Homo sapiens: one gene and its partners. The main gene of each other region encodes a partner of the protein of the gene in region 2 in a complex. Each region holds a gene or a part of one and is shown on either strand. Other genes may lie near its edges. The genes, in order: LSM4, SNRNP200, SNIP1, PPIH, PRPF3, LSM7 and PPIL2.

Region 1 (4,481 bases), on a different chromosome or scaffold from region 2:
CCTCGTGACACACACAACCCCTGGGAGGAAGGAGCCCAGGCCCCTTGGAGAGCCCCAGAGGCCTCTAAGGGCCGGTGAGTCTAGGACATGGGGCAGGAGCTGCAAATGGGGCCTCCCTGCTCCCCACCCTTCCTTCCCTCCTCCTCTAAACATTGCCCCACCCACCTCGCCCTGTGAGCCCAGCCCCCTGCACGGCCCACACTGTAGGGGCATGGGGTGTGCCAAGAGATGCTCCTGTCGACCAGGCGCAGTGGCTCATGCCTGTAATCCCAGCACTTTGGGAGGCCAAGGCGGGAGGATCACTTGAGATCAGGAGTTCAAGACCAGCCTCGCCAACATGGTGGAACTGTGTCTGTACTAAAAATACAAAAATTAGCCGTCTGTGTTGGTGCACACCTGTAATCCCAGCTACTCAGGAGGCTAAGGCAAGAGAATCGCTTGAACACACGAGGCAGAGGTTGCAGTGAGCCAAGATTGTGCCACTGCACTCCAGCCTGGGCAACAGAGCGAGACTCCGTCTCAAAAAAAAAAAAAAAATGCTCTTGTCCAACAGGCAGGTGGGTGCCGTGGGCCGGTGCATCCCAAGGCTTCCAGGCCCGGGCCCCCAACTGCTGCCCCTGCCTGTGTTGAGGGGGCGGGTTTGTGAGGTTCAGGGCAGGCCACATCCTGGACCCCACATGCCCCATCTCTAACCATCAATCAAGTGCCGCTGTGGCGGAGAGGATTCAGGCGACTGCAGATATCCATCCCTGTCCCCCACCCCACACACAAGGAGAACATCCCAGGCGAGGACATTGTAAATGCAAAATCTATACGATGGCAAGTAACTCTGAAGACTCAAGAAAAAGAGTTCCTCACGGACGGGACCTTTTATTCCAATCACCTCTCAAAATAGGTCTCCGAACGAGGACCCTGAAGAGAAGGCTATGCAGGGGGACGGGCCGCTGCCTGGCTCAGGGCTTCCCTCTGGTTTCTTCACGGTCCACAGATGCTACCCGGAGCCTTTCTCGAAAGCGCTGACTCAGTGTCTCAGGTGCGCGCCCGAGGAGTGGCAAACCCGGCCTGGCTCAGAAAGGGGGCAGGAGCCTCGTGAGAATCTTCCATGAGCATCTTCCGAGGGGATTCCTGTCCTGTCTTCTCTGTGTGAACGCCAGTGTGGACAGATGAGGATAGATGATGGAGTCCAGGCCACCCAGGAGGGGGTGATGGGGACCATGCGTGGCCCCTGCCTGGGACTTCCCTCCCCACACACCCCTTGGCATTAACGTCTCCACAGAGGGGAGAGGGTTATAGGACAACCTGGTGTGGGGGGCGCCGGGGACTCTCAAGAGCCCCCACTGTCCAGATGCTGGTCTTGCCTTTTGTAAAAGGACATCAGTGCCTCACTGTGCCGCTGACACCTGGTGAGAACTCTCAAAAGGAAGCTTCCCTTACGGGAACGGGGATTTCCTGAGAGTCCAGCGATGGACAGAGGGCAGGAGACCCGCTAGGTGCACCCAGAAGCTCAAAAGGAACAGTGGATGTGCAGTGTGTAGTTTTATTTGTTTTTATTTCCATAACACAAGAGAGGAAGCGAAGGGCCAGGGCCCGAGGCATCCCCTGCACGGTTCGAAGGCTTTCAACCGTCCCGGGTTTGTTTTGAAGGCAATTTTGGGGCCGCGCCCAAGGAAACCCTGCAGGCTGTCAGTCCCAGCATGAACAGCTTAAAATAAAAATCTCCCGTCTGGTTGCTGCTCGGAGAGGCTCCAAGAAATGCAAAACAAACCCGCCTGGAAAATGCTGCCCTGAGAACCAGAGCGAGGGCTTGAAAGATGCCTTCAACACAGACTCTTCTAGGAATCCAGCCAGTTTTGGGACGGCCGTTTCACAAAACCAAAAAACACCAAGTAACATTTCTAACCGGAGAATTGCCGGTTTTAGCAAGAAAAAGGGGCTTCACCTAAAAGGGAGGGTCACAAAACACGAAGGGGGTTCCCCCTGGCGCCTGCCTCTTCCTTTCTGAGCAGATCCGTCCGAGACTGTGGAGCGGAATCGCCACCCTGGCAGGAGGGGGCGCAGCAGCCGGTCTGGGTGGGCGCTCACTGTTTGCCCGCCTGTCTGCCAGGCTTCTTCTCTGGCTGGCCTCTGCCTGTGCCCGGGATCCCACCTCGGCCCCGGCCACCAAACACACCTAGAGGACAGAGAGAGGGCGCTGCAGCAGAGCCAGGTGGGTGGGACCTTCGACAGGATCCCGGCGCCCTGAAACTCTAGGCCAGGTCACCTAAGTCTCCAGCCTCAGCTTCCTCATGTGTGAGGTGGTGACTGAGGGTGCTTGGATCTCCTCCGTGGGGCAGAGCATCTGAGGAAGGCAGGAACTCCAGGGCATCCTCATTATGGGACTAGACCCAGCCCCCAGGGATGCGGGGGGGGGGGACTAGGCGACAGAGGACACTAAGTCACATTGGGGGTTGGGGCAGGCTTCCTAAAGGACAAAGCCAGAAGGGTTTCCTGGAGGAGGAGGAGGAGGTAGGAGAGGCGTGGAGCAGAGACCAGGGCAGTAGGCCAGGCTGGGGGCTCCCTGGCGGGGGGGGGGCCTCCTATGCGCCACAACCACCCACAGCCCCTCATCTACCTGCCAGGAGGAAAACAGAAAGAGGGATTTCTGTGTATCCAGCCCCAGGGATGGGGAAGGGGAGGGGACTCCCCAGCAGGCCTGAGGCCAGAGATAGACCATGAGGACAAATGACATTTTCCATGAAGCCCCTGAGGTGGGAGCATGTGGCCACTGGGGAGGTGACAGGGGGTTCCCGGGAGATGAGGGCCCCAGGGACTGAGTGGACGCTACAGCGGCACCTCCAGTAATCCTGAGCAGGCTGCACGCAGGGCACGCCTGTCCCCACACCCTCTGTGTGCCTGGCGCCCCTTCACGCCACCCTCACCACAGGCCAGGCCTGGACGCAGCAGGTTGGTCAGGCCGGGACCCAACATTGATCCCTCCCTCTCTGTCTCCCTTGGGGACCCCAGCTCTGTAAGCCCCGTTTAGGGAGCCGTTTCAGAGAACTTTCTAGCTGGACGAACGCTTGAGGAAATCAAAGCTGGAGCTTCAAACAGCAGGAGAGCCAAGGCCAGCAAGAGGAGCTGGCCCTGTGGCCCATGTGCTGGGTGCCAGGGGCCAGAGGCCAGCGCTGCAGGCAGCATAGCTCAGGCCCTCCACAGAGCCCGCTGGGAGGCTCAGTCGTGGGCCAGGGAGGTCTGGGGACAGGAGGACTGACCCCAACAGGAACTGGAATCACGGTCTACTCTGCAGACCTCAACCCCGTGAAGGTGGGGTCAGGGGTCCAGATTCAGAGGATCTAAGAGGTCAGGGCTCTCACCAGCCAGGGGCCACCAGGCCCTGTGGGGACAGAGGCCAGAGGCCAACGCTGGCCTGGGCCACCAACCTCCCCTCTCACCAGGCAGGACCAGCTGTGCTAGGGTGCACAGCCTGGTGGGGGTTACTGCGAGGCTGCTATCTGCACTCCATGGCCCAGTGGCTTCCTGCAGAGCAGCCAGAGAAAACCCCCCACTTCCCTAGGTAGGACCCGACCCACTCTCTCAACAACCTTGACCCCAACTACTGGGAAGGAGCCAGGCCGGGGACCCCAGAGGCCCCACCCACCCTGAGATCCCCAAAGCTCCCTGCCTGGAGTACTATCCCTGCCCCTCCCTCGGGCTCACTCCTGACCACCTCGTGAGCCTGCACAGAATTGGCGCCTGGGGCCTTCCGGGGGCAGCCATGCCGTGCTGCAAGCCCCCAGGCTGGCACCTGAGCCCAGCACACAGGCAGTGCCCATGGATGGCAGAAGCAAAGCCCAGGTCCCCCCGAGAACACAGAGCTGGGGACAGAGAGGTGAGGAAGGGCAGGGGCTACAGATGGCCCCTGGGCCTAACAAATGGAATTTTATGCCAATTCATCATCTCCGGTGGGGGCGGGCGACCTTGGCTCTGGATAGAGCCACGCCAGGTTCCAAGTGGAGTTGCCAGCGGCCTGGACAGATGGGCACCACCATACCCTCTCAGAGGGGAAACTGAGGCTTGGGGAGGTGACTTGATGTGCCCTGAGGACCGCCAGGAGGCGCAGTGAGAGGAGGGCTGAGTCCCAGGTCTCGGGGCTCCTCTGCCTGGGCCTCGGCTCATGGCCAAGGACCAGGAGGGGGGCCCGGGAGGGTTGGGAGGCTCCGAGGCAGCGCTGCAAGGGCAACCCCAAGAAGGAGGGATGCCACGTGTGGCTGTCTTCCCGCCCCAGGTACGTCCACTGGAGAGGGGAGACCCACCTCGGCCAGCGCCGCCCATGCCGCGGCCTTTCTGCTGCTTCTGCTGCTGCAGGCCTCCGCGGCCGCGGCCCTTGGCCACCACCTCCTCCTTGACCATGTCGATGATCTCGTCGGGGATGCGCAGGTACTTGATGGTGCTGCCGCGGATGTAGCACTCGGGCATCCGCCAGAACTTGTCCCCGTCCTGCG
Region 2 (4,481 bases):
CCTCCTTCCTAAAATGAATGTGAATCTGCAGATACACAGAAAGTAAGCTAGGATGAAGAAAAGGTGTTAGGGAAGTTAACAGCTGAGATGCCACCAGAGCCAAGTGTTTGAGAGTTTTGTGTCTCAATACCTAGGCTCACATTTGCTTTTTAGTCATTGTGCTTCCTTATTCAGCAGCTGGGAGAGGTAGGAAATTAGAGCCAGGAGGAATGTTTGACGTTACGTCATTAATCTCAGACATCTTGTAGATTAGGAAAAGTGACTTGGTCGAGGTCATACACCTATATAGTGACAAGTAAGAAGCTAGAGGAGTGCCGAGCGCAGTGGCTCATGCCTGTAATCCCAGCACTTTGGGAGGCTGAGGCGGGCGGATCACTTGAGGTCAGGAGTTCAAGACCAGTGTGGCTAACATAGTGAAACCCCCGTCTCTACTAAAAATAACAAAAATTAGCTGAGTGTGGTGGCAGGCGCCTGTAATCCCAGCTACTTGGGAAGCTGAGGCAGGAGAATCAGTTAAACCTGGGAGGCAGAGGCTACAGTGAGCTGAGATCCCACCATTGCACTCTAGCCTGGGCAACAGAGTGAGACTCCAACTCAAAAAAAAAAAAAAAAAAAAAGCCTGGGTGTGGTGGCTCACACCTGTAATCCCAGCACTTTGGGAGGGCAAGGTGGGCAGATCACCTGATGTCAGGAGTTCAAGACCAGCCTGGCCAACATGACAAAACCCCGTCTCTACAAAAATTAGCCAGGTTTGATGGCAGGTGCCTGTTATTCAAGCCACTCACCTGTAATTCAAGCCACTTGGGAGGCTGAGGTTGGAGAATCACTTGAACCCAGGAGGCAGAGGTTGCAGTGAGCCAAGATCGCGCCATTGCACTCCAGTCTGGGCAACAGAGTGGTACCCCGTCTCAAAAAAAAAAAAAAAAAAAAAAGGGCCAGGTGTGGTGGCTCATGCCTGTAATCCCAGCACTTTGGGAGGCCAAGGCGGGTGGATCACAAGGTCAGGAGTTCGAGACCAGTCTGGCCAATGTGGTGAAACCCTGTTTCTACTAAATATACAAAAATTAGCCTGGTGTGGTGGCACGCGCCTGTAATCCCAGCTACCTGGGAGGCTGAGGCAGGAGAATCGCTGGAACCCAGGAGGCGGAGGTTGCAGTGAGCCGAGATAGCACCACTGCACTCCAGCCTGAGCAACAGAGCGAGACTCCATCTCAAAAAAAAAGAAGTTAGAAGAGTCAGTCATTCTCATAAAAAAGCCTGCATAATTTGTTGTTGTTTTTTTTTTAAGACAATCTTGTTCTGTCGTTTAGGCTGGAATGCGGTGGTATGATCTCAGCCCACTACAGCCTCTGCCTGCCAGGCTCAAGCAATCATCCTGCCTCAGTCTCCCAAGTAGCTGGGACTACCAGCATGTGCCACCACTCCCAGCTAATTTTTCCTTTTTTTTGTATAGATGGGTTTTCACCATGTTGCCCAGGCTGGTCTTGAATTCCTGAGCTCAAGTGATCCACCCACCTCAGCCTCCCAAAGTGCTGGGATTACAGGTGTGAGTTATAGTGCCTGGCCCAACGCTTAATAACTTTTTCCTGAAATGCAGATTAGTTTGAAATGAATTTTATTTACGGGTTCATTTTTAATGTTTGAACCTGCTTCTAGGTAGGGTTAAAGTTGGGTGACTTGATGACTCACGAAATACACAACTATGAAGTTTGGAAAGTGTGGTGGTATGCACCTGTAGTCCCACCTGCTCTGGAGGCTAAAGTGAGAGGATCACTTGAGCCTAGGAGGTAAAGGCTGCAGTGAGCCGTGGCTGTGCCACTGCACTCCAGTATGGACAGCAGAGCAAGACCCTGTATCAAAAAACAAATAAAAACAATAATAATTTTTTTTAATTAAAGGAGAAAAGTTTGGGAAGTTTGACTTACATATTTGATCCTCGAATAGGGAGTTATTTTGGTTTTGGCATTAGATAGTTTTGTAGCTTGGTTCATGGCACTTGAGCAGCAAATTCATGGCCCTTACACTGAATACTAAAATGTTATACAGGCCAGCCAGTGAAGCTAGTTGTAAGTGCAGAGATTCATAAACAGAGTCGTCCCGTGATTTGTCCGTGTCTCCCCGTATTAACATTTTACTCTTACTTGGCGAAGGGAGTTGGGCTTCCTGAGCATGGTCTCCGTGTTGAGGTGGCTTTTCCTTCTTTCCCTGCTTCTGTCACCAGCTATGTGGATTACCCCATCTATGACGTGCTTCAGATGGTGGGCCACGCCAACCGCCCTTTGCAGGACGATGAGGGGCGCTGTGTCATCATGTGTCAGGGCTCCAAGAAGGTCAGTCCTAGACTCATGGAGCCTCTTGGATCCGTAGCCTCAGAATGGATTCTTTAATCTTTCTTTTGATAGATGTCTTCAGTAACTTTAGTCTCTTAACTTCTGCCTCTCTTATTTACACAATTCTTTTGTGACGAGCCTGCCACCCACATGGAATTTTGCTGCCTTTTGCTTTTGCTGCTGCCGTTGGCTCCACGTGTTGAGGTCTTCACCCTCTACTTGGTTCTCTCCTTCCTCCTTGGGCTGCTCACTGCTCTGCCCTCGTGACTTGCTGTACCTCTGTTCCCACTGCGTATTGTCACCAGTGATGCACTTTCTAAATGTGTGGCTTCTTCCATTTTGGTATTAGTTAGGTCTCACACAGGGACCATGCCCTGTTGATTTGCCCTTGGCCCTCTGTGACCGTGTTGTCACTAATTCTTTATTACTCCTTCTCCCTCTCCAACCCACAGGATTTCTTCAAGAAGTTCTTATATGAGCCATTGCCAGTAGAATCTCACCTGGACCACTGTATGCATGACCACTTCAATGCTGAGATCGTCACCAAGACCATTGAGAACAAGCAGGATGCTGTGGACTACCTCACCTGGACCTTTCTGTACCGCCGCATGACACAGAACCCCAATTACTACAACCTGCAGGGTCAGTGGGCTTGGGAGCACACGTGATCCTTTGGTGGTTCTCACAGTCTTTGCTGGGCATCTTCTTGAGGCTCCCCACTCACCTCTCGCCTCCATAGGCATCTCCCATCGTCACTTGTCGGACCACTTGTCAGAGCTGGTGGAGCAGACCCTGAGTGACCTGGAGCAGTCCAAGTGCATCAGCATCGAGGACGAGATGGACGTGGCGCCTCTGAACCTAGGCATGATCGCCGCCTACTATTACATCAACTACACCACCATTGGTGAGGCCCGGCATGGCCCGTGTCCTGTCTGTGGGAGCCTTTTTACACGGGTCAGGAGCCCACTGGGATGAGAGGTGCGCCCGTGTTTGTCAGCGGGATGACACTGCAGGGGACAGCAGGGGAGCCCGGGCAGTTCTGCTCCTTCTCTGCCTGGTTTTAGCTTCTCTCACATTTCCTTTTTCTGTCAGAGCTCTTCAGCATGTCCCTCAATGCCAAGACCAAGGTGCGAGGGCTTATCGAGATCATCTCCAATGCAGCAGAGTATGAGAACATTCCCATCCGGCACCATGAAGACAATCTCCTGAGGCAGGTGAGGACAGCAGACTTCAGGAGAGCATCCTGGGAACAACAAACTCGGCCTGTGTGCCCAGAGCACATGGCATCCCTGCCACCAACACGCCCATACGCATCCCCCGACCCCCGCCATATGTCCTCCCGCTCCATACCTCCCTCAAACCCATCTCCATCCCATTACCACCCACATGCCTCAGGGTGTTGAAGGGCTGTGTGAGCCTGGGCCACGTGGTGCTTTGGCCTGAGCTGGTCTCAGGCAGGGTCACCTGTTCATCACCAGCTATTTTTCTTCCACTTTGTAGTTGGCTCAGAAGGTCCCCCACAAGCTGAATAACCCTAAGTTCAATGATCCGCACGTCAAGACCAACCTGCTCCTGCAGGCTCACTTGTCTCGCATGCAGCTGAGTGCTGAGTTGCAGTCAGATACGGAGGAAATCCTTAGTAAGGTAGAGTGTGGGTGTGGGGCAGAGGGGTCAGTGGTGCTCTAAACATCTCAGCTCCAACTCCGCCCACTTTTATACTCCTTTTCCTGTTCAGGCAATCCGGCTCATCCAGGCCTGCGTGGATGTCCTTTCCAGCAATGGGTGGCTCAGCCCTGCTCTGGCAGCTATGGAACTGGCCCAGATGGTCACCCAAGCCATGTGGTCCAAGGACTCATACCTGAAGCAGCTGCCACACTTCACCTCTGAGCATATCAAACGTTGCACAGACAAGGTGAGCCGGGTCAGCCTAGAGGGTCAGGTGGGTGAGCCTGAGAGCCCAGTGTTGTGGACCGAGCGTGGGTTGCGGGAGGTGAGTCTCAGTAAGTTAAACTTTTAGTTATGGTTCCTCCGAAGGTGCTCCCTGTTGAGATGCTAGAGAGCCTGCCAACTGTGGGCTGTGTTCTTTCTGCAGCTGTTTTATCTAGATGACTTGATAGTGTAGGAGGTAAAATTAGTAGCTCTTTGCTGCCT
Region 3 (4,481 bases), on a different chromosome or scaffold from region 2:
TCATTTTAACTTAACCAGCTCTTTAAAGACCTCATCTCCAAAAAGTTATTAATACATTCTGAGGTACTTGGGTTTGGTACTTTAACATGCTAATTTTGGAGGGTACAATTTAGTCCGTAATAGTGGCTGTATCATTTTATATTCCCACCAGCAATGTATGAATGATCCGGTTTCCCTGTATCTTTATCAGCATTTCAAGTTATCACTTTATTTTAGCCATTCTGATAGGCGTGTAGTGGTATTTCATTGTGATTTTAATTTGCGTTTTCCTTTTTTTTTTTTTTTTGAGACAGAGTCTGGCTCTGTCACCCAGGCTGGAGTGCAGTGGCACGATCTCGGCTCACTGCGACCTCCGCCTTCTGAGTTCAAACGATTCTCCTGCCTCAGCTTCCCGTAATTTGCATTTTCCTAATGGCTTATGATATTGGACATCTTTTCTTTGTGTGTCAGTGTGTGTGTGTGTGTGTGTGTGTGTGTGTGTCACCCAGGCTGGAGTGCAATGGCGTGATCTTGGCTCACTGCAATCTCCCCTTCCCAGGTTCAAGTGATTCTCCTGCCTCAGCCTCCTGAGTAGCTGGGATTACAGATGCCCACCACCACGCCCAGCTAATTTTTTGTATTTTTAGTACAGAAAGGGTTTCACTATGTTGGCCAGGCTGGTCTCAAACTTCTGACCTCGTGATCTGCCTGCCTCGGCCTCCCGAAGTGCTGGGATTACAAGCGTGAGCCACTGCACCTGGCCTTGGACGTCTTTTCATGTGCTTATTTGCCATCTATATGTATCTTCTCAGGTGCAATGTCTCATGTCTTTTGCCTGTTTATTTTTTATTTTTTATTTTTTATTTTTTGAGACGGAGTTTCACTCTTGTTGCCCAGGCTGGAGTGTAATGGCGCGATCTCAGCTCATTGCAACCTCAGCCTCCCAGGTTCAAGGGATTCTCCTGCCTCAGCCTCCCAAGTAGCTGAGATTACAGGCTCGTGCCACCATGCCCAGCTAATTTTTGTATTTTTAGTAGAGATGGGGTTTCGTCATTTTGACCAGGCTGGTCCTGAACTCCTGACCTCTGGTGATTCACCTGCCTCAGCCTCCCAAAGTGCTGGGATTACAGCAAAGTGAGCCACCATGCCCAGCTATCTTTTGCCTGTTTTCTAATACTATTATTTGCTTTTTTACTGTTTAGTGTTTAAGAATTCTTTTTATATTGTGGATACTAGCCCTTTGGGGATAAATGGTTTACAAATATTTTTTCCCAGTCTGTAGCTGTCTTCATTTTCTTAACAGGGTTTATCTCAGAGCAAAAGTTTTTAATTTCAATGAAGTCCAGCTTATCTGTTTTTCCTTTTATGGATTGTGCTTTTGATGTCATGGCTAAGAACTTTTTGCCTAGCCCTAGATCTCTGAAATTTTCTCCTAAATTTTTTTTCTTAAAAGTCCATGATCTGCTTTCAGTTTCTTTTCAGGGTTTCAGGGTTTTTGTTTTGTTTTGTTTTGTTTTGTTTTGTTTTTGTTTTTTTTGCCTATGAATGTCCACTTGCATCAACACCATTTGTTGAAAAGACCATCTTTCCTCCAATGAATTACTTTTGCTCTTTTGTCAAAAATCAGTTGGGCATATTTGTGTGGGTCTATTTCTGGAATCTCTGTTCTGTTTCATTTGTCAGTGTCTGTCACTCTGCCAATACCACACAGTCTTGATTACTATAGCTATATAATAAGTCTTGAAATTGTATGGACTGATTTTTCCCATTGTAGTCTTCTTTATAAAAATTGCTTTAGCTATTCAGCTTCTTTTTTCATCCATGTAAGTTTTAGAACAATCTTGCCTCTATTTTTAAAAAGTCTGGGCCGGTCACAGCGACTCATGCCTGTAATCCCAACACTTTGGGAGGCTGAGGTGGGCAGATCACTTGAGCTCAGGAGCTCCAGACCAGCCTGGGCAACATGGTGAAACCCATCTGTACAAAAAATACAAAAATTAGTTGGGCGTGGTGGCATGCCTGTGGTCCCAGCTACTCAGGAGGCTGAGTAGCTCCTGAGTGGGAGGATTACTTGAGCCTAGGAGGTTGAGGCTGCGGTGAACAGTGATCATACCACTGCACTCCAGCCTGGGCGACAGAGTGAGATCTGAAAGAAAAGTCTTGCTAGGATTTTGATAGGATTTGTGTTAAACTGGCGTTTGGGGGCAATAATTGACTTTTTACTATGTTAAATCTTCTAATCCATGAACATTGTGTATCTCCCCTTTTATTTAGATCATCTTTGATATCTTTTATCAGTGGTTGTAGTTTTCAGCTTATAAATCCTATACATATTTCTTTGTGGAATGATTATAAAGGGTATTTTAAATGAGTGTCCAAATGTTCATTGTTACTATATAGAAATATAATTCATTTTTGTGTGTTTATCTTCATCCTATATCCTTGCTGAACTAATGTATTCTAGTTTTTTTTTTTTTTTAAGATTACTTGGGATTTTCTACGTAGACAATCATATCTACAAATAGGGACAGTTTTATTTCTTCCTTTACAATCTGAATGCATTTTATTTCCTTTTGTTGTTTGCATTAGTCCGTTTTCATGCTGTTGATAAAGACATACCCGAGACCCGGCGATTTACAAAAGAAAGAGGTTTAATGGACTTACAGTTCCACATGGCTGGAGAGGCCTCACAATCATGGTGGGAAGCAAGGAGGAGCAAATCACACGGATGGCGTCAGGCAAGGAGAGATAAAAGAGTAATGAGAGCAGACACTCTTGCCTTATTCTCAATTTTGAGGGATGAGAATTCAGTCGTCTTTTTTTTTTTTTTTTCTTTTTTTTTTGAGACGGAGTCTCGTTCTGTTGCCCAGGCTGGAGTGGCGCAATCTCTGCTCACTGCAGCCTCCGCCTCCTGGGTTCAAGGGATTCTCCTGCCTCAGCCTCCCAAGTAACTGGGATTAGAGTCTGGGCCGATCACAGTGGCTCATGCCTGTAATCCCAGCACTTTGGGAGGCCGAGGCGGGTGGATCACCTGAGGTCAGGAGACCAGCCTGGCCAACATGGTGAAACTTCGTCTCTACTAAAAATACAAAAATTAGCTGGGTGTGGTGGTGGGCGCGTGTAATCCCAGCTACTTGGGAGGCTGAGGCAGGAGAATCACTTGAACCTGGGAGGCGGGGATTACAGTGAGCCAAGATCGCACCACTGCACTCCAGCCTGGGTGACAGAGCAAGACTGTTTTAAAAAAAAAAGCAAATTTTAAAAGACAAATAACAGTATAACAACTATTTATATAGCATTTACGTTGTATTAGGTATTATAAATAACCTAGTGATGATTTAAAGTATACAGAAGGATATTCACAGATTTTTATATAAGGAACTTGAGCATCCTAAGATATCTTTTTTTTTTTTTTTTTTTTTTTGATATGGAGTCTCGCTGCGTTGCCCAGGCTGGAGTGCAGTGGTGCGATCTCGGCTTACTGCAAGCTCCGCCTCCCGGGGTTCACGCCATTCTCCTGCCTCAGCCTCCTGAGTAGCTGGGACTACAGGCGCCCGCCACCATGCCTGGCTAATTTTTTTGTATTTTTTTTTTAGTAGAGACAGGGTTTCACTATGTTAGCCAGGATGGTCTCCATCTCCTGACCTCGTAATCCACCTGCCTTGGCCTCCCAAAGTGCTGGGATTACAGGCATGAGTCACTGCACCTGGCCCTGAGATAATCTTTTTTATCCACTGGGGATCCTGGAACCAATCTCCTGAGGATACCAAATGATTACTTTATTCTTTTCTCAACCTCTGAACCACCATTTTGTGTTTTTTTTTGGTTGTTGTTGTTGTTTGTTTGGTGAAGTGTTGCTCTGTTGCCCAGGCTAGAGTGCAGTAGTGTGATCTTGGCTCACTGCAATCTTTGCCTCCTGGGTTCAAGCGATTCTCGTGCCTCAACCTCCCCAGTAGCTAGGATTACAGGCACGTGCCACCATGCCCGGCTAATTTTTGTATTTTTAGTAGAGACGGGGTTTCACCATGTTGGCCAGGCTGGTCTCAAACTCCTGACCTCAAGTGATCCACCTGCCTCAGCCTCCCAAAGTGCTGGGATTACAGATATGAACCACCGTACCCAACTGAACCACCATTTTCGAAACAAATGTATTGATTACATGCTCATTGTAATAATACAGAGGTATGTAAAATATAAAATGAGAGTATGGTTTACTTCTCTCGTCCCCAAAATTGCACCACCTCCTCAACCAAAAAACCTCCACCTCACTTGCCAGAGGTAATCACTATGATATAGACTCTCTGTCCATCATCACATGGCCTTCTCCCATGAATCTCTCTATCTCTTCTCTTCCAAGGTCACCAGTCACGTGGGATTAATGACCTATATTACTTCAGTATGACCTTAATTTATTACATCTGCAGTGACCCTCTTTCTAAATAACGGAGAGATAAACATTTGAGACTCACCTGCATATAGGTGTATGTAAAGTATTAGGATTA
Region 4 (4,481 bases), on a different chromosome or scaffold from region 2:
GGCCCAGAGTGAGTTAGGCATCCTTCCCTAGATCAATCAACTATGACCAGGAGGGTGGTATCATGTTGTACATACAGACTGCCAAGAGCTCACCCACCCTCTTAGATAGTTTAGGGGAATGGGGTGGTAGTCACTTAAGTGGGTACTTTTATGTGACTGAAGGCATGAGAGTCTTCAGGAATGGCAAGGATTGAGTATGTGATCACCTTGTTGCTGTTCCCTACTTTGTCTGCATCTTAATTGATCGTTCTAGAGGCCCAGCTGTGACCTCTTTTATCCAGTCTATAAAATGCTCCAGCCAGTCTTTGTGGGCTGTAGGTACCTTATATAAGGCTTGATCTGATTGCAGGGTGGGGTCAAATAGGTGCAGCTTCCAAGATGACCAACAAGAGTAAGAGTAGACTTTAAAGATGTCATGCTTTAGGTGCGACAGTGTTCTTCCTCCGGTTTCCAGGGACCCAACACTCCAAGTCACTAATACTTCCCTTCTCTCTGCTCAGGGAGATGGTACTGGAGTCGCCAGTATTTACCGGGGGCCATTTGCAGATGAAAATTTTAAACTTAGACACTCAGCTCCAGGCCTGCTTTCCATGGTAAGTGAGGTCCAATCAAGGTTTTGGGTTATAGCCAGCTGGTTCCTGGGCCCCTCTTGAGGCCCAGTGCTGTCTCTTGGGATGGAAGCAAATGCTTTCCTTCTCTTGCTTGGCCCAGGACTCACCTTTACCACCTCCTTTCTTAGTCTGGTTTGACTGAGAAAACCAGTAGGTATGCTGGCTCACGCCTGTAATCCCAGCACTTTGGGAGGCTGAGGCAGGTGGATAACCTGAGGTCAGCAGTTCGAGACCAGCCTGGCCAACATGGTGAAACCCCATCTCTACTAAAAATACAAAAAATTAGCCAGGTGTGGTGGTGGGTGCCTGTAATCCCATCTACTCGGGAGGCTGAGGCAGGAGAATCGCTTGAACCCAGGACGGGGAAGTTGCAGTGAGCTGAGATTGCCCCACTGCACTCCAGCCTGGGCAACAAGAGCGAAACTCCATCTTAAAACAAAGAAAAGAAAGAAAAGAAAACCAGTAGGTAAGGCCCACTAGCAGGCTAGCAGGCTGGGGAACTAAAATCTGAACCAGGATTTGTGTCTGGGCATTCAGCCCTACTGCTCAGAATGTAAACAGTTGTGCTTTCAAGACATATTCATAGCTGGGTGTGGTGGCTCACACCTGTAATCCCAGCACTTTGGGGAGGCCGAAGCAAGAGGATTGCTTGAGGTTGAGGTCAGGAGTTTGAACAATCTGGGCAACATAGTGAGACTTAGTCTCTACTTAAAAAAGAAAAAAAAAATTAGCCAGGTGTGGTGACACACACCTGTAGTCCCATCTACTAGGGAGGCTGAGGTGGGGAGGATTGCTTGAGCCCAGGAGTTTGAGGCTGCAGTGAGCCATATCCTGTTCATCTCTGTATCCTTGGATCCTAGCTTAGGCCCTGGCTCATAATAGGTGCTAAGTTAGATTTACTGAAAAAAACCATAGAGGAATCAGTGTTACAAGCTCTTTTGGAAATCTTGCCCTTCAGCTAACATGGCCGGGGAAACTTACTGCAGGTATATTTGGTTTCCATCAGGCGAACAGTGGTCCAAGTACAAATGGCTGTCAGTTCTTTATCACCTGCTCTAAGTGCGATTGGCTGGATGGGAAGCATGTGGTGTTTGGTAAGTCCTACTCCTGTCTCATGGTCCAGGCCCCATTCACCCTGGATGGAACCTCCAGAGGAGTTAGTTCTCAAACTCTTACCAAGAAAGCTCAACCTGTGTAACTGCTTAGGTGGTAATAGAGAAAACAGAAATGGTGGGGAGGTGGGGAACATGTGTGGCTAGAGAACTAGAGGGAAGGACAAAAGGACCATTTGATATAGTATGGAACCACTTAGGGAGAAAACCCAGTTGCTAGCACCAAAGAAATGCCATAGAGGCAGCATGATACGGTGAGACTTTGGAGTCACTCAGGTATAAGTTTGAGCCCTAACTCTACTTATTACCTATGACCTTGAGCAAGTCATTTCACCTCTACCGCATCTTAATTTCCTAAAGTTAGTATGAGGGTTTAATGAGAAAATAGCTAAGAATGGGCTTTGGAAGCTGGAAAATGCTATGTAAACAAGAATAAAGTCCAGCTCATGCTCTTCCTACAGGAAAAATCATCGATGGACTTCTAGTGATGAGAAAGATTGAGGTAAGTACTGCTTTGATTTTTCTGTTTCTCTGCCATTGTGGTCTGGTACTGTCTGACTAGCGTGCAGGAGCTAGAGAAGGGGGAATGAGCTCCAGTTTGTTAGGCTGTCTTCATTGCCCCAGGAAAAGGGAAGAGAACCACCTAAGTTAGCCTGTCTGGCCAACACTGAGGTTTGGCCTCTGATGATCCTGTTGCCTACTTGATAAAATTCTACTCCTCAGCATTGCGTTCAAGGTCCTTCATGATTAGTCCCTGTCTACCTCTCCATGGCCCCTTCTTCTGCCATTGCCTCTTCCATGTTCCAGTCACATCAGGCTACTAGCTCTTCTCTAAATCTGCCATGCATGTCCCTGCTGCTTGCTCTTTCCTGCCCCTGAGCCTTTGCTCACACAGTTTCCTCTAGCCGGAATGCTCTTCTTTCCTTCCCTCCTGATGGAATCCCATTCATCCTTCTAGGCACAGTTCAAATACCCCTCTTTTGTGAATCCTTCCCTGACCTCTTTAAGCCCCAATTTAGTTGCCTATCTAACCCTTATCCAATTCTCTCTTATAACTTTTTCTTATATAATCATAAGTTTGATATTTTCTAAGTGTTTTGCATTTTCTCTTTGATAGGTATTATATGCTTTACCTGTCTGCCAGGACATGGACTGTTTCTGAGTGCTGAGTCCTTAGCACAGGGCTGGCAGGCATCAGTAAAAGTTTGATAAGGGAACGAGGAAGTGCCTGAGTGGATGAATCTCCATTGTGCTTTTTTTCCTAGAATGTTCCCACAGGCCCCAACAATAAGCCCAAGCTACCTGTGGTGATCTCGCAGTGTGGGGAGATGTAGTCCAGACAAAGACTGAATCAGGTAAGTGTGTCTTTCTCCTATTAGGTTAGGAATCAGACCTCAGAGAAGGCAGCATGGTCTAGTGGAAAGAACTTTAGTCTTGAAGACATGAGATTGAGCCCAGTTCCTCCGTGTATGGCCTTGGAGTAGTCACTTTCCTTCTCTGAGCACATTTCCTCATCTGTCAAATGGAAATACTGTAATACCTATCTCTCAGAGTCACTGTAAAAATAAAAAGAGAAAGGGTTGTAGGAGCACTTTACTTTTCTATCACTTTGTAATGTACAAAGTATCAATGTGAAAACTACTCAGGCAGTTTGTAACAGCACTCTCAGACTACAGTTCCATTCAGTAGTCCCCCTAGAAAGACCTGGCTCCAGGCCTGAGTAACTCTCTGCTGGGACCAGGCCAGGCAGCCAGGAGACACACCTGTCATGCCTCTCATCAGAACTGATACTGCAATTCCAGGCCTCGACTTCATATTCGCTGGCCTCATAGGTGAATGCCTTGCATCTTCCAGCCTACATGGACTCATTTCTTACCCGTAATTACCACTGCCTGCTCTGCGCTGGGCAGCATGCTAGCTGCAGAGAGGGGGACAAAGAATTGAAAGATGTCTCCTTTCAGGAGCTCATGGAAAGTAAGACATTCCCAGAGGTGATCACTAGTAATATGAGTGACATTGCCAAGTATGAGAAGAGTACAAGGGAGAAATCCATCACTTCCAGCCAGGTGAGGGGTAGTGATGTTTTGTTTTTCTTTTTTTTTTATTTTCAAACCTGCAAAAAAGTTAGAAGATAATACCTTGAACACCAATATATCTTCACTTAGATTCACCAATGATTAACATTCTTGTTTTATTGCTTTGCCTTGACATTTGTTTTTTTCTTTCCCTTCTTGCCTCCTCACCCATTTCCATTGCCTCTCCTCCTCCCTCCTGCTCCTCTTCCCTCCCTCCATCCTTTCCTTCCTTTCTTCCCATCTTCCTTCCTTTACCCTTTCTTCTTCTCTTTCCCATTTGAAAGTTGCAGACTTCTTGACACTTTACCCCTAAGTATTTCAGCAAGGAACTCCTAAAAATAAGAACATCCTACGTAACCACAATATTATCTAATATATAGTACATTTTCAAACCTCCCCAATTGTCCCAAAAGTAACTTTTGTAGCTTAAAAAAAGGTGATCCAATCAAGGTTCCCATATTTCATTTCATTTGGTTTACACAAGTAACATAATACACTCTCATTGTGAAAACTTTCACACCAAACAGATAAAGTGAAAGCCCCTCTTGACAATACCCACCTGCAATTCCACTCCCCTTTCCAAAGGTCACTTCCTTATTAGTTTGATGTATGTCCATCAGGGCCTTTGCCTTGCCCATCTAATTTTGGGAGGTTTTCTTTTTCCCAAATGAAATCATACTATA
Region 5 (4,481 bases), on a different chromosome or scaffold from region 2:
GATGGGGTTTCACTGTGTTGCCAAGGCTGGTCTTGAACTCCTGGGCTCAAGCCATCCACCCGCCTCAGCCTCCCAAAGTGCTGGGATTACAGTGTGAGCCACCACACCCGTCCATCCAAATAACTCTTATAGAGAAGGCACTGCAGCCTCAACTTCCTGGGCTCAAGTGATCCTCCTCAACCTCCTGAGTAGGTGGGACCACAGGTATATGCCACCGCACCCAGCTAATTTTAAATTTTTTGTTGAGATGCAGTCTCCTTGTGTTGGCCAGACTGGTCTTTAACTCCTGGGCTCAAGTGATCCCTCTGCCTTGGCCTCCCAAAATGCTGTGGTTCCAGGCTTGAGCCACCACGCCTGGCTTTATTTTGTTTTTTGCTTGCCTTAATGTTCCATACAGGATTTATTTCTTTGCGGGCTATTTTTCAGGAAGGTGGAGTTAAAAGACCAAACGAAACCTACACCACTGATCCTGGATGAGCAAGGGCGCACTGTAGATGCAACAGGCAAGGAGATTGAGCTGACACACCGCATGCCTACTCTGAAAGCCAATATTCGTGCTGTGAAGAGGGAACAATTCAAGCAACAACTAAAGGAAAAGCCATCAGAAGACATGGAATCCAATACCTTTTTTGACCCCCGAGTCTCCATTGCCCCTTCCCAGCGCCAGAGACGCACTTTTAAATTCCATGACAAGGGCAAATTTGAGAAGATTGCTCAGCGATTACGGACAAAGGTATCTGGCTTAGAGTATAACACAGAATTTGGAAAAAGTTAAGAAGCTGACAAGAAAACATTGTTAAATCTCTGTGTTCTAGGAAATTAGATAAATAGGTCATTTAAAGCAGCAGTCCTCAACCTTTTTGGCACCAGGGACTTGTTTCATGGAAGATAATTTTTCCCCTGGAGTAAGGATGGTTTCGTGATGGTTCAAGCACATAGCATTTATTGTGTACTTTATTATTATTATTTTTTTCGAGATGGAGTGTCGCTCTTGTTGCCCAGGCTGGAGTGCAATGGGGCGATCTCGGCTTGCTGCAACCTTTGCCTCCCAGGTTCAAGTGATTCTCCTGCCTCAGCCTCCCGAGTAGCTGGGATCACAGGCATGTGCCACCACGCCTGGCTAATTTTGTATTTTTGGTGGAGACGGGGTTTCTCCGTGTTGGTCAGGCTGGTCTCGAACTCCTGACCTCAGGTGATCTGCCCACTTTGTCCTCCCAAAGTGCTGGGATTACAGGCGTGAGCCACCGCCCCCGCCTTTTTTTTTTTTGGGCGGGGAGGGGGATGGAGTCTTGCACTGTTACCTGGGCTGGAGTGCAGTGGTACAGTCTCAGCTCACTGCAACCTCTGCCTCCTGGGTTCAAGCAATTCTCCTGCCTCAGCCTCCTGAGTAGCTGGGACTGCAGGCATGCGCCGCCATGCCTGACGAATTTTTTGTATTTTTAGTAGAGACAGGGTTTCACTATGTTGGCCCGGCTGGTCTTAAACTCCTGACCTTGTGATCTGCCTGCCTTGACCTCCCAAAGTGCTGGGATTATAGGCGTGAGCCACTGTGCTGGCCTATTTCTATTATTATTTTATTGTAATATATGATGAAATAATTATATAACTCACCATAATATAAAATCACTGGGAGCCTTGAGCTTGTTTTCCTGCTGAAATGGTCCCATTTGGGTGTGATGGGAGACAGTGACAGATCATCAGGCATTAGATTCTCATAAGGAATGTGCAACATAGCCCCCTCACATGTACAGTTCACAATAGGGTTCGCGCTCCTCTGAGAATCTCATGCCACCGATGATCTGACAGGAGGTGGAGCTCAGGCCATAATGCAGGTAATAGGGAGCAATCGTAAGTACAGATGAGACTGTTGGCTTGCCTGCTGCTCACCTCCTGTTGTGCAGCCCAGTTCCTAAAAGACTGTTGGGTTGGGGACCCCTGATTTAAAGCAATGAATACTTTGAAAAATGTGCTGGACAAGATGGCTCAAGCCTGTAATCCCAGCGCTTTGGGAGGCCGAGGTGGGTGGATCACGAGGTCAGGAGTTCAAGACCAGCCTGCCCAACATGGTGAAACCCCGTCTCTACTAAAAGTACAAAAATTAACCGAGCGTGGTGGTGGGTGCCTGTAATCCTAGCTACTTGGGAGGCTGAGTCAGGAGAATCACTTGAAACTGGAAGGCAGAGGTTGCAGTGAGCTGAGATCGCACCACTGCACTCCAGCATGGGCAAAAGAGCGAAACTCCGTCTCAAAAAATATATATATATATTTATTAATATAATACATAATTTTTTTAGCAGATTTTACTTCCTAATTCGTTTCTACATAAGTGGAAATATTATGAAATTGAGTTTGAAAATTCTCCACATACAACTAAGTGGAGGGAAACAATTTGAAACATTCTGAGTGACTAAGGAAGGCTTGCCTGTAGTTAAAATTTAATGAGACAGTACACCTGGAGAGTTGAATTGATTGTATATTGAATGACCTTTGCCGCCTTTTTATCCTCTCAAAGTGAGGTTTTCATAAAATTCCTTTTTTTTTTTTTTTTGAGACGGAGTCTCGCTCTGTCACCCAGGCTGCAGTGCAGTGGCACGATCTCAGCTCACTGAAAGCTCCGCCTTCCAGGTTCATGCCATTCTCCTGCCTCAGCCTGCTGAGTAGCTGGGACTATAGGCGCCCGCCACCACGCCCGGCTAATTTTTTTGTATTTTTAGTAGAGACGGGGTTTCACCGTGTTAGCCAGGATGGTCTCGATCTCCTGACCTCATGATCCTCCCGCCTCGGCCTCTCAAAGTGCTGGGATTACAGGCGTGAGCCACCACACCCGGCCATAAAATTCTATTTCTGCGTATTTACTGCAGGCATATACTGTGGAGTGCAGGGAGGGGTTGAAGGTGAGATCTATGTATATGAACTAAATAAAGGATAAAATAAAGCAGAACAACTCCTTTCTAAGCTTTCAGAAATTATGAACTTGTTGCGTTAGGTGTAAAGAGTTCAACGGGGAAGTGTTTTAAAATTTGGGATTCTTGGCCGAGGTGGGCGAATCACTAGGTCAGGAGATCGAGACCATCCTGGCTAACATGGTGAAACCACTTCTCTACTAAAAATACAAAAAAATGAGCCGGGCGTGGTGATGGGCGCCTGTAGTCCCAGCTACTCGGGAGGCTGAGTCAGGAGAATGGCGTGAACCCGGGAGGTGGAGCTTACACTGCACTGCACTGCAGCCTGGGTGACAGAGTGAGACTCCGTCTACAAAAAAAAAAAAAAATATTTGGGATTCTGGCCGGGCACAGTGGCTCATGCCTGTAATCCCATCACTTTGGGAGGCCGAGGCGGGCAGATCACCTGAGGTCGGGAGTTTGAGACCAGGCTGAGCAACGTGGAGAAACCCCATCTCTACTAAAAATACAAAATTAGCTGAGGGTGGTGGCACATGCCTGTAATCCCAGCTACTGAGGAGGCTTAGGCAGGAGAATCGCTTAAACCTGGAAGGTAGAGGTTGCTGTTAGCCAAGACCATGCCATTGCACTCCAGCCTGGGCAAGAAGAACGAAACTCCGTCTCAAAAAAAAAAAAAAATTGAGATTCTACACATTCTGTTTTCTATGACTCCAATTTATCTTTCTGTCTTGGATTATCTTGTTTTTAGGCTCAACTGGAGAAGCTACAGGCAGAGATTTCACAAGCAGCTCGAAAAACAGGCATCCATACTTCGACTAGGCTTGCCCTCATTGCTCCTAAGAAGGAGCTAAAGGAAGGAGATATTCCTGAAATTGAGTGGTGGGACTCTTACATAATCCCCAATGGCTTTGATCTGTGAGTTTGTTTTAGTACCTTTTTAAAAAAACAGTTTTTAATCAGCTGAGTTTAAGACTCAAGTTAATACCTTTTAGTAAAGCTATGGTTTTAGTGGGAAGGATGGTACTCATTCATTAATTAAAATTTTTAAATCCAAGAGAGATAAGTAACTGTACACAAGGTCCTGTTATTTTTTTTTTTTTTTTTTTTGAGAGGGAGTCTCGCTCTGTCACCCAGGCTGGAGTGCAGTGGCACGATCTCAGCTCACTGCAACCTCCACCTCCCGGGTTCAAGAGATTCTCCTTGAATTCTCCTTGAATCTCAGCCCCTCAAGTAGCTGGGACTACAGGTGTGTGCCACCATGCCCATCTGCTTTTTGTATTTTTGATAGAGACAGGGTTTTGCCATGTTGGCCAGGCTGGTCTCGAACTCCTGACCTCAGGTGATCCGCCCACCTTAGCCTCCCAAAGTGCTGGGATTACAGGCGTGAGCCACTGCACCTGGCCAAGCTCCTGCATTTGTAAGTGATGTATCATATATATAGGCTGTTTTTAGCTTTTGGGGTTAATGTAGGATAACCAGGGACACAATCTACAAAAGCAAAGTCTAGAATTCTTTTTGCTCTGTTACACATTGTTGCCTGTTTTTAGCATTATTTTCCTTAATTACATTCTTTTGCTA
Region 6 (3,264 bases), on a different chromosome or scaffold from region 2:
GTGGGGCTCCCTGCTGGCTCTTCTTCTCTCAAACCCACAAAACCTCTGAGTTACCAACGTGAAGCCTCGTGGCGGCCGATGGACGGGCTTGAGCGCTCACTGGTCCTAGACGTCCTCACAAAGCAGGAAACCCCATTGTTGTGGGGCCTGGAGAGACGGGAGCTGCCAGCTCACCCACTGGTCTCTACACACTGACGGGGCGCCCGGCACAGTTAGAGGACAACCTTTTTAAATGTTTTATTATTTTAATTTTTGTTAAATTGGTGACGTGAGAGGCCAGGCACAATGGCTCACACCTATAATCCCAGCGCTTTGGGAGGCCAAGGCAGGAGGATCTCTTGAGGTCAGGAGTTTGAGACCAGCCTGACCAACATGGTGAAACCCCGTCTCCGCTAAAAATGCAAAAAAATTGCTGGGTGTGGTGGCGCATGCCTGTAATCCCAGCTGCTCGGGAGGCTGACGCAGGAGAATCGCTTGAACCTGGGAGGCGGAGGTTGCAGTGAGCCGAGATGGTGCAACTGCACTCCAGCCTGAGTAACAGAGTGAGACTCCGTCTCAAAAAAAAGAGATAAGCTGAGGTCTCACTGTGTTGCCCGGGCTGGTCTCGAACTCCTGGGCTCAAGCCATCCTCCTGCTTCAGCCTCCCACAGTGCTGGGGTTCCAGGCGTGAGCTGTGGCGCCCAGCGGAGAGCAGCCTTGCTGTGGGGTAGTGAGCGTGCCGTGGGGCTCCTCTCGGGCGCCTTTCCTCTTCTGCCCTTGTTAATTCCCGCTATGAACGCAGGGTCCCTGTCTCCTCCCCAGAGGACCCTCCCTCATTTCCCTGCCCCCGCTCGCTCCCCTCCCCAGTGAGGCCGCCAAGTCCTCAGACTCTCCCCCAGAAGCTCCTGCGGCAAGTCCCCAGCTGGCAAGTCCCCATCCCGGCCCGGGCACTGGGGGAATGTCAGGACTTAGGAGAGAGAGGGTCTTGCCCCTTGGATCCATTGATACTGAGACAAGATTTATTCTTGTAGCTGGCCATGGTGGCTCATGCCTGTAATCCCAGCACTTTGGGAGGCCAAGACAGGAGGATCACTCGAGCCCAGGAATTTGAGACCAGCCTGGGCAACATAGTGAGACCCTGTCTCTACAAAAAAAAAAAAAATGTAATTAGCCAGGCATGGCGGTACATGTGCCTGTGGCCCCAGCTACTCAGGAGGCTAAGGCAGGAGGATTGTTTGAGCCCAGGAGGTTGAGGCTGTGAGCTGTGATTGCACTGCTGCACTCCAACCTGAGCAACAGAGCAAGACCTGGTGTCTGAAAAAAAGTTTAAAAACCTGGGCCCCATGGTTCTCCCATGCCCCCACCACTGCAGGACCACAGTAGTGAGGAGTTTTAATCGCCTTCAGCCTCTTGAGAGCTTGTCTTGGGCTTGCTGGCACTTCCCTGGGGTGCCAGCCCACATGGTCCCCACCCCACATGAACAGCCTCTTTATTTTTTTATTTTTTGAGATGGAATCTCGCTCTGTCACCCAGGCTGGAGTGCAGTGGCGCGATCTCGGCTCACTGCAAGCTCCGCCTCCTGGGTTCACACCATTCTCCTGCCTCAGCCTCCCGAGTAGCTGGGACTCCAAGTGCCTGCCACCACGCCCGGCTAATTTTTTTGTATTTTTTAGTAGAGACGGGGTTTCACCAAGTTAGCCAGGATGGTCTCGATCTCCTGACCTCGTGATCCGCCTGCCTTGGCCTCCCAAAGTGCTGGGATTACAGGCGTGAGCCACCGCGCCCGGCCCCCAGCCTCTTTGTTATAGGGTGAATATTGGCCCCCTAGGGCTCCAGGGACCTTGCAGAGACCAGGAGGCCCAGGGTGCCTGTATTCTGGCCGGCCATCTGATAACCTGGTTCCCGGCCCTGGTGCCTGGGCCCCAGTGAGCTCTGAGACGCGGGGTAGCCGGCTATCACCTGGGCCTTCTTGTTCCCATGGTTTGTGGAGTGAGGGAGGGCTGTGGCTGCTGTCTGTGGAGCTGCCACTGGTCTCTAGGGGCCATGGGTCTCAGCCGTGGGAGCCGGGGACCTGCCCCACAGAGCGCATCCCGTCTGAGGTCCCTGCGTGCTCGTGGCGCCTGCAGGGTGCAGGTGGGGAGGTCGGAGCGAGGGTCTTGGGTGGGTGGGGGGTCTCGGAGGCTTCCTGGAGGTCCCTCAGTCCTCTCTATCTGCTCCTCCCCAGACCCTGACGACCAGTACAAGCTCACGGAGGACACCCGGCAGCTGGGCCTCGTGGTGTGCCGGGGCACGTCCGTGGTGCTAATCTGCCCGCAGGACGGCATGGAGGCCATCCCCAACCCCTTCATCCAGCAGCAGGACGCCTAGCCTGGCCGGGGGCGCGGGGGGTGCAGGGCAGGCCCGAGCAGCTCGGTTTCCCGCGGACTTGGCTGCTGCTCCCACCGCAGTACCGCCTCCTGGAACGGAAGCATTTTCCTTTTTGTATAGGTTGAATTTTTGTTTTCTTAATAAAATTGCAAACCTCAATGTGTCTGAGCCCCGAATCTTGCTTTTCCCTTGACCTTCTGAGGAAACCTGGATTCCTGGAGATTGGACTCAGTCCCTGGAGCTCATCAAATACCAGCCATGGTCCCTCCTGGGGGTGAGGGTTCAGGAGTGACCAAGGCGGGCACAGCCAAGGCCGAGACAGGCGAGTTTGGAACCTCAGTCTGATGAGGGGCTTGTGGAACCCCAGGCCCGCCCCCAAGACAGCAGGAGCTGGGGTGCATCAGGAGCCGGGATGCATCAGGAGGCTGGGGTATATCAGGAGGCCGGGGTGCATCAGGAGGCCGGGGTGCGTCAGGAGCCGGGGTGCATTAGGAGGCTGGGGTGCATTAGGAGGCTGGGTGTGTCAGGAGCTGGGTGTGTCAGGACCTGGGGTGAATCAGGAGCCGGGGTGCATCAGGAGGCTGGGGTGCATCAGGAGCCGGGGTGCATCAAGAGGCCAGACCCCACAGCCCATGCAGCTAACACCTGCCCCCGCTGCTGCCCCCGCTTGTGAGATGGACTGGTCACCTACAGCCAGCCCCTTCTGGGTTCCTTCCGTGCTCACAGCATGTCCTGAGGTCGGGTGCAGTGGCTCTCGCCTGGAATCCCAGCACTTTGGGAGGGTGAAGTAGGAGGATCTCTTTGAGCCCCGGAGTTCAAGACCAGCCTGGGAAAATAGGGAGACCTCGTCTCTACAAAAAATATATATATTTTTTCCTTTGAGACAGTCCTCACTCTCACTCAGACTGGAGTGCAGTG
Region 7 (4,481 bases), on a different chromosome or scaffold from region 2:
CCTGCAGGTGTCAGAGAACCCCAAGTGAATTAATGAAAAACACTGACTTAGAAAAGCAGGTGCTGGCTGGAGCGTGGCCTGCTGAGTCAATCACCTCTGTGGCTTGTCCCATTCTAACCAGAGGTCGGCCCACGGCTGCCCACGTTCCGGTCCGATAGCTCCCTAACAGCAATGAATGCTCGTTAGCCATGTGCCTGGAGGAAGGTCACAGCTCAGCCAGCAGCTAGCGAGGCTGCGTCCCCGTCCCTGCCCCTGCCCCTGTTTGCTGCCCTGCCTGGGGCAGACCACCTCCTCCCTCATGCCCTGCTTGACTCCCCCAACCTCAGTGTAGCCCTGGCCTCTTCCACACCTCTGACAGCTGGCCGTCCTTTGCTGCATGTGGCTGCCATTTGGCCGTAGGCTGGGTTCACTCTGCTGGGCATTCTCTTTTTGCCACAGGACCCCACCAATTTGGACAAGTTCAATGTCTCTAACTTCTATCATGTGAAGAATAACATGAAAATAATAGACCCAGGTATGTACACCTAGGGGCTGGGCTAGGCGAGGGGGCTTTTGGATGAAATTGGGACAGTGCTCCCTGGGTAAAGCCCCCGCTTTCCTGGAGGTCAGGGGGTCCCAGCCCAGACAGGCCCTGCATTTTCTGAACTAGTGTTCAGAGAATCTGAGCCAACTGCAGCCTCAGAAACAATGGGCGGGATAGACTTGCTGCCCTGCCAGCACACCTGCTCAGGTTCCCCTGCTCCCTGCAGACTGGCCGGTGCTGTCAGTGGGCAGGTGGTGGGGTGATGGGGTCCTCCTGTTTCCCTGGCCTCTGGTGGCTGTCCTGCAGCCTTGGAGGAGCCAGCAGGACTCATGTTCAGAGGTCACTCGGCCTTGTGCTGCAGAGCAGTGGCCTGGGCACTTTGTGAGCATTGTTTGAACGGGTTTTAGGTAGGCTGAGCACGTGAACTGGGGAAGATTTGAGTCAGGAGAGCCTGAGGTCAGGGTTGGGGCTGGGCCGTGTCTGTGCTCTCTGCACAGGGATGCCGGCCCCTCTCCACAGGGTGGGCTGCTGTCCAAGGCCCAGTAGGCAGCAGGCACCCTCCTGAGTCGGCAAGAATGGGTGATTTCACATCTGGAAAGACCCCCAAACACTTCTATTATTTTAAATAAAAATAACCTTTAAAATTACAGAAGCAAAGCAACTGGGTGTGGTGGCTTATGCCTGTAACCCCAGCACTTTGGGAGGCCAAGGCAGGCGGATTGCTTGAGCTCAAGAGTTCGAGACCAGCCTGGGCAACATGGGGACACCCTGTCTCTACAAAAAATAGAAAAATTAGCTGGGTGTAGTTGGTGCGCCTGTAGCCCCAGCTACTTGGGGGGCTGAGGCAGGAGAATCGATTGAGCCCAGGAGGTGGAGGCTACAGTGAGCTGAGATCTTGCAACCGCTTTCTAGCTGGGGCGACAGAGCTAGACCCTGTCTCAAAAGGCTGGGCGCGGTGGGTCACGCCTGTAATCCCAGCACTTTGGGAGGCTGAGGCAGGCGGATCACGAGGTTACAAGATTGTAACACAAAAAAATTAGCCGGGCGTGGTGGCGGGCGCCTGTAGTCCCAGCTACTCAGGAGGCTGAGGCAGGAGAATGGCGTGAACCTGGGAGGCAGAACTTGCAGTGAGCCGAGATTGCACCACTGCACTCCAGCCTGGACGATAGAGCGAGACTCCATCTCCACAAAAAAAAAAAAAAAAAAAAAGAAAAAAAAAGCAAAGCGTATACTCTAAAAAGATTAGAATATACAGATAAATATAAAATATACAAATCAACCTGAAGTCCATCCTGAGACCCTTGTGAACTGCCTGGGGAGACCTTCAGGCCTGTAGCGGGGCACTGTGGCATTCTGTGGCTGGCAGTGGCACGGTGCCTGCGCCATGGCTGGACGGCCCTGGGCTATTCTAGATCTGTGTCCCCAGCACGTGTGTGGGGAGGCTACTGGGGGCTCGGCGGCTCAGGGCCATGCTACTGTTTTGTAGATGAAGAGAAGGCCAAACAGGACCCGTCTTATTATCTGAAAAATACAAATGCCGAGACCCGAGAGACCCTGCAGGAGCTCTACAAGGAGTTCAAAGGGGACGAGATTCTGGCAGCCACCATGAAGGCCCCGGAGAAGAAGAAAGTGGACAAGCTGAACGCTGTGAGTGGCGGAGGGCACTCGGCCAAGCCCAAGCCCCGTCTTCCTGCCCATCTCATGGCCTCTTGGAGTGGTCCTGGGAAAGGGGCTCATGGGGGCCTGGGATACACGGCAGGGAGGCAGCCAGGATCCCCCAGAGCTGTGGTGCCCCTGATGGCTCTGAGTGCACAGCCCTGGGGCTGCCCTGAGGCAGATAGAATCTGAGAAGGCAGAAGGGGAGGGGCTGATGTCCACACTGGTCGTTGAAGAACCAAGGGGTGTGTGGGGGCATGTAGGGGAGATCCCTGCCACAGAAGGTCTGCCTTGTGCTGTGGTCCCAGCCTGAGCTCAGTAGCCAGGGCAGGCACGTTGAGCGGGCACATGTGGTTCTGTGGTGGCTGGGAGGGCAGGGCCCGATGTGCACTGGGGCCCAAAGCCATGCCAGGGAGAGTTGGGGCGTTTCATGGTCTGCTGCGGTGCTGACGTGGATGGCATGCCTGGGACTGCACGGTGCCACCTGTCTGGGGCTGTCGTGTTTGCTTCTTCCTCCTGTCAGGCAGAGCATGGGGATCTGGAGCTAGGGGGAGGGCAGAGACATGGGCAGGTAGCTCTGAAGTTCTCCTTCTTAAAGAATTATTCAAATTCTGGAAAATTTGAAAAAGAAAGCTTGTTGTCCAGTGTGTCACTCCGTCTAACACACTGCCCTTAGCACTTTGATATATTACTTTTTTTTTTCTTTTGGAAACAGGATCTTGCTATGTTGTCTAAGCTGGTCTTGAATTCCTGGCTTCAAGTGAGAGCCTCCTGCCTTGGCCTCCGAAAGTGCTGGAATTACAGGTGTGAGCCACTGTGCCTGGCTTGTATTTTCTTCTGATGGGAGAAACCCCTTTTTCTTCCTCTATGATAAAAAATAACATTTATTGGGGCTTTTCCCCGACCCCTGATTAAATATGTAATGTGTTTAGTGTAGAAAGTTTGAAACTTTTAAAAAGAAATGAGGCCAGGCGTGGTGGCTCACACCTGTAATCCCAGCATTTTGGGAGGCTGAGGCAGGAGGATTGCTTGAGGCCAGGAGATCAAGACTAGGTTAGACAACATAGTGAGACCTTATCTCTACAAAAAATCAGCCAGGCGTGGTGGCATGCGCCTGTCGTCCCAGCTACTCAGGAGGCTGAGGTCGGAGGGTCACTTGAGCCCAGGAGTTGGAGGCTGCAGTGCACCAGGATCACACACCACTGCACTCCAGCCTGGGTACAGAGCAAGACCTTGTCTCATAAAAAAATTAAAATAAAAATAAATGAGAAGTCAGCCATACACTCCTAACCCTGAGGTGGCCAGTCCTGTGTGGTATTTTATCTCCAGGGTTTCACCTGATATCATAAGAGTCGGGATCCAGTGGAGGCCAGGGGACCCTGGCTTGGCCTAGCCTTGGCTTCTTCCTCCTGCTGGTTGGGGAGGCCCTCCTGGAGGAGAGGCACCAAGCAGGGCCTGGGGGGCAGGGGTGGCGTGTGGTTGGCTTCTAGGCAAGCGACACGTCCCCACCCAACTGCCTCCCATGGCACTGCTGAGGTGCCACCCTGGTTTCCTTGGCAGGCCCACTATTCCACAGGGAAGGTCAGCGCTTCCTTCACCTCCACCGCGATGGTCCCGGAGACCACACATGAAGCAGGTAGCCACCTTGGCCTCTGTAGCCACCTGCCATGTGACCCAAAAGTGGCAGGGGGTGGGTGTGCTCCCCGACTCCCACTTTATTGGTCTGTCAGGGGCTCCCACTGTCACCTGAGCCCCTAGTCCTCCCCCTCTTAGCTGCTGAACCCCTGCCAGCCCCATGAGGCTGGGGTGAGCCTGTGCGTGGCCTAAGCAGACCCTCGGCCTCCAGCTCCCCTGCTCTCCCCAGAGCTGGAGCCTAGTCCCCGCCTGTGTGTCTGAGGTCGGTGCTGCCTGGCATGGTGGGGCTGCCCCAGGGTGAGGGCAGGGGCTGAGCTGGGACCTTGGCTTGTAGCTGCCATCGACGAGGATGTGCTGCGCTACCAGTTTGTGAAGAAGAAGGGCTACGTGCGGCTGCACACCAACAAGGGCGACCTCAACCTGGAGCTGCACTGCGACCTGGTGGGTGTGGAGGCCAGCCACTCCCCATGCCCCAAGGTCATCTCTGGGTCATCTGACAGCCATGTCTTAAATATAGGGCTGCCACTGGTATGTGCTTGTTGTAGGAAATTCAGCCTGTCACTAGGCGGGACCCGCAGCAGTGCCCTGTGTCCTTCCTAGGGGGCCGCGTTGGCAGCATGGCCTGCGCACAGGTGCCAGTGTCTCAGAGAAGGGGCCAAGCCGCACC

The links.
Region 1: SNRNP200 (region 2) and LSM4 share a complex: the UniProt entries of both Homo sapiens proteins name them as parts of the U4/U6-U5 tri-snRNP complex.
Region 3: SNRNP200 (region 2) and SNIP1 share a complex: the UniProt entries of both Homo sapiens proteins name them as parts of the minor spliceosome.
Region 4: SNRNP200 (region 2) and PPIH share a complex: the UniProt entries of both Homo sapiens proteins name them as parts of the U4/U6-U5 tri-snRNP complex.
Region 5: SNRNP200 (region 2) and PRPF3 share a complex: the UniProt entries of both Homo sapiens proteins name them as parts of the U4/U6-U5 tri-snRNP complex.
Region 6: SNRNP200 (region 2) and LSM7 share a complex: the UniProt entries of both Homo sapiens proteins name them as parts of the U4/U6-U5 tri-snRNP complex.
Region 7: SNRNP200 (region 2) and PPIL2 share a complex: the UniProt entries of both Homo sapiens proteins name them as parts of the minor spliceosome.

Annotation. Positions count from the first base shown.
Region 1 is NC_000019.10:18,305,386-18,309,866, forward strand, and holds the end of LSM4 (U6 snRNA-associated Sm-like protein LSm4), read right to left. Parts: intron 4,477-4,481; coding exon 4,293-4,476; intron 2,171-4,292; coding exon 2,079-2,170; 3' UTR 851-2,078; downstream 1-850. UniProt on the Homo sapiens protein: Plays a role in pre-mRNA splicing as component of the U4/U6-U5 tri-snRNP complex that is involved in spliceosome assembly, and as component of the precatalytic spliceosome (spliceosome B complex).
Region 2 is NC_000002.12:96,277,300-96,281,780, reverse strand, and holds part of SNRNP200 (U5 small nuclear ribonucleoprotein 200 kDa helicase), read left to right. Parts: intron 1-2,221; coding exon 2,222-2,330; intron 2,331-2,782; coding exon 2,783-2,972; intron 2,973-3,069; coding exon 3,070-3,234; intron 3,235-3,422; coding exon 3,423-3,544; intron 3,545-3,830; coding exon 3,831-3,974; intron 3,975-4,065; coding exon 4,066-4,242; intron 4,243-4,481. UniProt on the Homo sapiens protein: Catalyzes the ATP-dependent unwinding of U4/U6 RNA duplices, an essential step in the assembly of a catalytically active spliceosome. Plays a role in pre-mRNA splicing as a core component of precatalytic, catalytic and postcatalytic spliceosomal complexes.
Region 3 is NC_000001.11:37,547,075-37,551,555, reverse strand, and holds part of SNIP1 (smad nuclear-interacting protein 1), read left to right. Parts: intron 1-4,481. UniProt on the Homo sapiens protein: Required for pre-mRNA splicing as component of the spliceosome. As a component of the minor spliceosome, involved in the splicing of U12-type introns in pre-mRNAs. Down-regulates NF-kappa-B signaling by competing with RELA for CREBBP/EP300 binding.
Region 4 is NC_000001.11:42,664,363-42,668,843, forward strand, and holds part of PPIH (peptidyl-prolyl cis-trans isomerase H), read left to right. Parts: intron 1-500; coding exon 501-593; intron 594-1,617; coding exon 1,618-1,705; intron 1,706-2,184; coding exon 2,185-2,225; intron 2,226-2,988; coding exon 2,989-3,057; 3' UTR 3,058-3,078; intron 3,079-3,684; exon of another isoform or gene 3,685-3,789; intron 3,790-4,481. UniProt on the Homo sapiens protein: PPIase that catalyzes the cis-trans isomerization of proline imidic peptide bonds in oligopeptides and may therefore assist protein folding. Participates in pre-mRNA splicing.
Region 5 is NC_000001.11:150,334,509-150,338,989, forward strand, and holds part of PRPF3 (U4/U6 small nuclear ribonucleoprotein Prp3), read left to right. Parts: intron 1-426; coding exon 427-733; intron 734-3,651; coding exon 3,652-3,818; intron 3,819-4,481. UniProt on the Homo sapiens protein: Plays a role in pre-mRNA splicing as component of the U4/U6-U5 tri-snRNP complex that is involved in spliceosome assembly, and as component of the precatalytic spliceosome (spliceosome B complex).
Region 6 is NC_000019.10:2,320,762-2,324,025, reverse strand, and holds the end of LSM7 (U6 snRNA-associated Sm-like protein LSm7), read left to right. Parts: intron 1-2,203; coding exon 2,204-2,346; 3' UTR 2,347-2,505; downstream 2,506-3,264. UniProt on the Homo sapiens protein: Plays a role in pre-mRNA splicing as component of the U4/U6-U5 tri-snRNP complex that is involved in spliceosome assembly, and as component of the precatalytic spliceosome (spliceosome B complex).
Region 7 is NC_000022.11:21,682,744-21,687,224, forward strand, and holds part of PPIL2 (RING-type E3 ubiquitin-protein ligase PPIL2), read left to right. Parts: intron 1-438; coding exon 439-514; intron 515-2,009; coding exon 2,010-2,170; intron 2,171-3,739; coding exon 3,740-3,815; intron 3,816-4,148; coding exon 4,149-4,255; intron 4,256-4,481. UniProt on the Homo sapiens protein: Has a ubiquitin-protein ligase activity acting as an E3 ubiquitin protein ligase or as an ubiquitin-ubiquitin ligase promoting elongation of ubiquitin chains on substrates.